Regions from separate parts of the Homo sapiens genome. Here region 1 is reported to be linked to region 2. The links are microRNA targets in miRTarBase. Many come from high-throughput screens and were not tested one by one. Region 2 holds a microRNA gene; the other region holds the end of a gene's coding sequence.
What was found. Region 2 holds the annotated microRNA hsa-miR-3925-5p (AAGAGAACUGAAAGUGGAGCCU, at 1,222-1,243, opposite strand). A microRNA usually pairs through its seed, bases 2 to 8, with sites in the 3' UTR of a target mRNA and lowers its output. Matches are read on the target gene's strand: a 7mer-m8 pairs with bases 2 to 8, a 7mer-A1 pairs with bases 2 to 7 and ends in A, and an 8mer does both.

Region 1 (3,410 bases), not on the chromosome of region 2:
CTTATTTGTTTCATTGAATGGTTAGACCTAAGAAAGTGATGGAGAATTTGTCAATGAAGGTAGTGTTTCAGGTATATAGTGTCTGTAGTTGTTACACTGTGAATAGACCAAAAAACTGAGAAATTATTTTCCCAGTATTTGAAAACAATTTTATCATTTAGCAAATAAGTGCATCACATTACTGAAGAATGAGTAAAGTTTCAACATAAGTCTTTGTTATACGTCTATTTATTAATGAAAAAGTATCACCAACATCCATTTAAAAATAAGCAAAAGACATTAATAAACATTCTTCCAAAGAGGATATACAGGTGGCAACTAGATACAAGATGTTCAAATGTTCAATACCATAAAATACCAGAAAAATGCAATAAAATCACAGACAGATGCTATTATACAGCTATTAAAACAACTAAAATTAAAAAGACTAACCATACCAAGTATGGCAAGAATGTAGAGAAATAAGAAGGTTCACATACTGTTGATGAGAATGCAAATGGTACAGTTAGGTTATAGTCTGGCCTTGTCTTTAAAAGTGACGCATTCACGTACACTGTACTACTGACACAGGAGAAATAAAGCATTTCTGCATATTAAGAGTTATATGCCTATGTTCATAGTAGCATTATTTGCAACAGCCCAAAACTGGAAAGCATCCAACTGTTTATCCAAATTGTGACATATCCACAGACTATTTCTCAGCAATACAAATGAACTATTCACATAAGCAATATTGATAAATCTTAAAAGTAATTGTGCATCAGCTGGTGTGGTGGCTTACGCCTGTAATCCCAGCACTTCGGGAGGCTGAGGCGGGCGGATCACGAGGTCAAGAGATCAAGACCATCCTGGCAAACATGGTAAAACCACATCTCTACTAAAAATACAAAAATTAGTTGGGCGTGGTAGTGCATGCCTGTAGTCCTAGCTTCTCAGGAGGCTGAGGCAGGAGAATCGCTGGAACCCAGGAGGAGGTTGGAGTGAGCCAAGATCATGCCACTGCACTCCAGCCTGGTGACAGACTGAGACTCCATCTCAAAAAAAAAAAAAAAATTGTGCATCATCAGGAAAAATGGAGTAAGTATTTTACGTTTCAATTCACATAAAATCCTAGAAAACACAAACTATTCTCCTGTAGGGAAAGTAAATGACAGGACTCCTGAAGGCCTGGAAAGTACACGCAGAGATTGTAAAACAGCAAGAGGTGAATCATGAATATGTTCATGATCATGATTATGGTTTCACAGGCTTGTATGACAAACTCTTCAAATTATACACCATAAATGGATGTAAACTATGGCATGTCACTTACACATCAAGAAAGTTTGTAAAACATGTTTCACAATAAAGTATCTGATCACCCAACTTTCAGAAACCAGAATGCCTAGCAATCTCATGTTGACTGCACTCTCTCTTCAGGCCTGGGGAAGGGCAACCATGAGTCCCTCCATGCAGGAAATGTTGGCAAGCAATGAAGGCTGTGGCAATTTGAGACAACAGCAACACTGGTGGAAATCACAAGAGCTATCAATACATCCCTGGCCTATAGGACTTCTGTTATCTTTATCCTCCTTTTTCTGCCTCTACAGCAATGCACTTGAGGTGAACAACCTAGAAAACCAACAAGAATTAAAAAATAAAACCCTTTAATTATTTTTGCTGAAAATAACCTCAGCTATTGGACATACACAGATTTCTAGGTCCTATGACTGCTCAAAGCCACAGTCACGGGAAGATTTGTAAATGTACTTTTATAAGAGGCACATTCCAACTAGTTTGCTACAGTACACACAGTACAGAAATACCCAGGTATTTCTGTACCAATTACAGTTCACATGTGACTCGCGTTGTCTTCTGCGTGACATCGGCCTATGGAATGTTTGATATCAGGGCATGCCTCCTTATAGAACCCCATGAAAAGCTTCTCAGCAGCACTGGGCATCATATGACATCCTCTGGAAACAATGGAATAAAATTGTCCTATTCCCTGAAGCACACATGCTTGTCATAACAGCTGGCCTCTCCTCAGGATGACCTCTAGTCTCACAGAAAGAATAGGGATCCAGGCCACAAATTAGAATAACCAAAACCTTGCATTTTTTCCTAGGAGATTTTAGGTAGCAAAGCAAGTATGACCAAAACCAGAATTAGAATTACTCTGTCATCTTACTTTCCTGCAGAGGCCCACAAAAGCCATCCATTCCTTCATATAGAGTTGAAGTCTGTCTCCCAGCCACCCCACACAGTAAACAGAACCCCAAGACTACAGGTAGATTCAAATATAAGGCTTTTATTAGTGCACAAACTGGAGCAATGTGAGGCAGCCATTCACCACGTGGTGACATGGAGGCTGGAAGAATGACCAAGTGTCATGTGAGACCAAGAATTTACATGAAGGGAATCCTTGCACATAAGTGTCCAGCAGAACCAAGGCTGGGCCCTCCTGACCCAAACTGGGTCACACGTATGCTGTGATCAGTCAGAAAAAAGAATGAATTTTCTCTAAAGGCTTAGACTGCTCAAGATTTCCTCCAAAGACTTAAGAGAACACACAGATGTCTGCCTTGTCTTAGCACATAGGAGTGACCAGTGCCCACTGTGCAAGGTGGTAGAGGGTAGATGGTTTCTACCAGAGAAACAAGGAAGAATGAGGTTCAACTTCAGGCAGATGGCTCCCTCACAAAGGCTCTCTACTGCTACAATACTACAGAGACAGCACTTTCCCTGTAGGTCTAAGGCTCTACTTAAGTGTGGACTTTCAGGAGCTAAATGATGATAGATCTTGAGTTGAAGGCGCTTCCACATTTGCTGCATTCATGAGGCCTCTATGTGTTATGACATTTTTGGTGATGTATGAGGCTGGAGCATTGGCTAAAGGAATTCCCACATTTGTTGCACTCATAAGGCCTTTCTCCAGTGTGAACCACTTGGTGTTGAATGAGACCAGACTTTTGGCTAAAGGACTTTCCACACTGGCCACACTCATAAGGCCTTGCTCCAGTATGAATTCTCCGGTGTTGAATAAGGATGGAGCTTTGACTAAAGGATTTCCCACAGTCACCACACTTATAAGGCCTTTCTCCAGTGTGAACTCTCTGGTGTTTAATGAGGGTAGCTTTTTGACTAAAGGATTTCCCACACTGGCCACACTCATAAGGCTTTGCTCCAGTGTGAATTCTTCGGTGTTGATTAAGAATGGCACTTTGACTAAAGGAATTCCCACATTCACCACACTTATAAGGCCTTTCTCCAGTGTGAACTCTTTGGTGTTTAACAAGGGTGGCTTTTTGGCTAAAGGATTTCCCACACTGGCTACACTCATAAGGCCTTGCTCCAGTGTGTATTTTCTGGTGGTCAACAAGGCTGGAGTTTTGTCTAAATAATTTTCCACATTCGCTGCACTCATAAGG
Region 2 (3,363 bases):
GGAATAGTCTCCTAAAACCTACTTGATCCTCACAGAAAAGTTCCTATCCCCATTGTGCAGATGTGGAAACTGAAGGTTAGAGATAGAAAGTTAGACCCTAGGGTGAGGCAATGGATGGCTAGGACTAGAACCCAAGGCAGGCTCCTAGGGCTCCTGCTTTTCCAGCACGCATCTACCATGCATATGTGCTACTACCAGGCCTGGCGCTAGGATTCACATCACTTTAGAGGCTGCTTGGTGAACATGGGCACCCACAAAAGCCCTGGAGAAGGCAGGTTCTTTCTCAGGAATGGCCAGTGGGTGTGAAGATCACAGTGTGGGAGAAAGATCAAGGAGGACTGAGGGCCACCCGACCAGGAATCATCTCCAGCAGCCTGTGGGTGACCGCTCGTCATCCAGATCAGCATCAGGAAGGTTCTGCACAACACCTCTAGGGAACACATGGGGATCGAGGTCCTGTGGCCGTCTTGGGGTCTGAAGATCTAGATTTAGCTTCTGGCAGTATCATGATGCAAACCTGGGCAAGTTGTTTTGTTCCCTGGACCTTGGTCTCTTCATCAGTGAAATGGAACTAATTATATTACCTCATAGGGCTATTATAAGGCCTAATAAAAAAAAAAAAGAAAGCATCCATAAACAATGTTTACTGAGCACTAGTAGTGCCAGGCACTCTTCACTTGTATTAACCCATTTGATCTTCACAAAAAATATTTTCTTTTTTGTTTGAGACGGAGTCTCCCTCTGTCGCCCAGGCTGGAGTGCAGTGGCGTGATTTTGGCTCACTGCAGCCTCCACCTCCCAGGTTCAAGTGATTCTCCTGCCTCCGCCTCCCGAGTAGCTGGGATTACAGGCGCCCGCCACCACACCCGGCTAATTTTTTGTATTTTTAGTAGAGACAGGGTCTCACCATGTTAGCTAGGATGGTCTCGATCTCCTGATTTCATGATCTGCCTGCCTCGGCCTCCCAAAGTGCTGGGATTACAGGCGTGAGCCACCGCACCTAGCCCACAACAAATTTTAGAGAGTAGGTACTATTGCTGTCCCCATTTTAGGAAACACAGAAGTTGGTTCCAGCCACAAGGAAGTGGCTTCATCCATCATCAAGAAGTTGATTCCAGCCCACGTGGATGGCTTTGAGGAGTTCAAGACTTTAGTGGAGGAAGTGATGAAAGATGTGGTGGAAATAGCAAGAGAACTAAAACTGGAGTCTGGAGATGTGACAGGCTCCACTTTCAGTTCTCTTGCTATTCCCACATGACCATGGTCCAGGATCCTGAGTTTATGTTCAGGAAATAAGACTCAGCGAAAACTTGCAGTCACTTTCATAATCATTAATGCAGAGATTCTCAATAAATTCTTAAGGCTCCACCACGCTCCAACATAAAGTAACACATTCAGTTTGTTACAGAAATGGTAATAAGGCAACACTATGCAATACTATGTGTACAATGCAGCACTTTGCAGTACCAAAATCCATGCCTACAAAGCACTGCACAAGAACACATACAAATAAAGGATATAGTAGAATGGCTGCCTGTGGGGTGGGGGCATGGAAATGACAATGGAGTGAGGGGGGAATACATGAAGCAAGAGGTGACTAGTCAGGACCAATGATGACAGCCAGCCATCACCTGGGGAATAGGAGGGACTCATCCCACTGCACCTGAGGACTAAAAATAAAATGGAATGGAAACAAGACCCTGGGTGAAATCACTCGGCCTGAAATACACTGGCCCTGGGCTCAAAGAGGAAAGGTGGGGACACATCCTGGGCTGCCTCATCAAACCAGGAGCCTGCAAGAGCATCCCTGTGTGTGTGTGGAGGGGGTGAGGACAAAGGGAGGGTCAACCACACCCAGTTCTGTGAGCTCAAACACCAGACTAAAGGCCACAGGCAGACCCTCCAAGGCCTCAGGGAAGGAGTGAAGAGAAAGGCCTGGGTGGTCAGTGTCAGAGGCGGCACAGTCACATGCTGTCATGCCTATTTCACCAAGGTTTAGCCAAATGCACTATTAGGGTGTCAAGAAAATATGGATATAGGGCAACAATCCTGTGATTGTATGATGACTGTAGGCTTGATCATCATAAGGGTCCTGCCATATGCTGGTCCAGTTGGCACACCCACCCATCTCCTGTGCCAGTGGAGTGTGCCTGTGAAACAGCAGTCAGCTCTTCTGGTGGCCCTGAGGATCGGGGTGAAGGAAGAGTGGATCTTCATTTAGTTAGTTTGCCCCTCTGCAGGAGGAGGGGAGTTGGATACAGACCTCTCCTAACAACCCGCCTGGCTACTGGAACCTTCCTGAGAAATGTGGTTAACCTCTGGGCGCAGAGCCAGCAGTTCTAGGCTCCCGTCACAAGGGGGCAGGATGGGGAAGAAAACAGGTTCTCAATTCCAGGCCTTGGACCTGTCAGGTTTGCTGGCAGGGGCAGGAAGGAGGGTGGGGTCGGGAGTGTGTGGTGGTTGATGAGGGATCCAACCATCGTTCCGCAAGAGCGGCTTGTTTATTAAACATGAAATGAGGGAAAAGCCTAGTAGCTCCATTGGATTGGGAAGAATGGCAAAGAGAGACAGGCGTCATTTTCTAGAAAGCAATCTTCACACCTGTTGGTCCTCACCCATTGAATGTCCTCACCCAATCTCCAACACAGAAATGAGTGACTGTGTGTGCACATGCGTGTGCATGTGTGAAAGTATGAGTGTGAATGTGTCTATATGGGAACATATATGTGATTGTATGTGTGTAACTATGTGTGACTGGCAGCGTGGGGAGTGCTGGTTGGAGTGTGGTGTGATGTGAGTATGCATGAGTGGCTGTGTGTATGACTGTGGCGGGAGGCGGAAGGGGAGAAGCAGCAGGCTCAGGTGTCGCCAGAGAGGCTGGGAGGAAACTATAAACCTGGGCAATTTCCTCCTCATCAGCGAGCCTTTCTTGGGCAATAGGGGCAGAGCTCAAAGTTCACAGAGATAGTGCCTGGGAGGCATGAGGCAAGGCGGAAGTACTGCGAGGAGGGGCAGAGGGTCTGACACTTGAGGGGTTCTAATGGGAAAGGAAAGACCCACACTGAATTCCACTTAGCCCCAGACCCTGGGCCCAGCGGTGCCGGCTTCCAACCATACCAACCATTTCCAAGTGTTGCCGGCAGAAGTTAACCTCTCTTAGCCTCAGTTTCCCCACCTGTAAAATGGCAGAAGTAACCAAGCTTACCTTCCCGGCAGTGTGTGAGGATGAAAAGAGCTATGTACGTGATGCACTTAGAAGAAGGTCTAGGGTGTGAGTGGTACTCGTCTGGTGGGTGTGGAGAAGACATTCTAGGCAATGAGGACTGGGGAGAGCCTGGCCCATGGCTTCCACTCAGCAAGGTC

Region 1: miRTarBase lists ZIK1 as a target of hsa-miR-3925-5p. Seed matches in the 3' UTR shown: 7mer-m8 at 2,543-2,549 and 7mer-A1 at 455-461.

What each region holds. Positions count from the first base shown.
Region 1 is chr19:57,590,691-57,594,100 of GRCh38, reverse strand. ZIK1 (zinc finger protein interacting with K protein 1) reads right to left here. Exons shown (of 4, transcript NM_001010879.4): 4 at 211-3,410. The coding sequence ends at 2,826. Among named protein-coding and RNA genes, the nearest start is that of ZNF530, 7.5 kb to the left of the region's middle.
Region 2 is chr6:36,621,259-36,624,621 of GRCh38, forward strand. MIR3925 (microRNA 3925) reads right to left here and starts at 1,254; the gene lies at 1,178-1,254.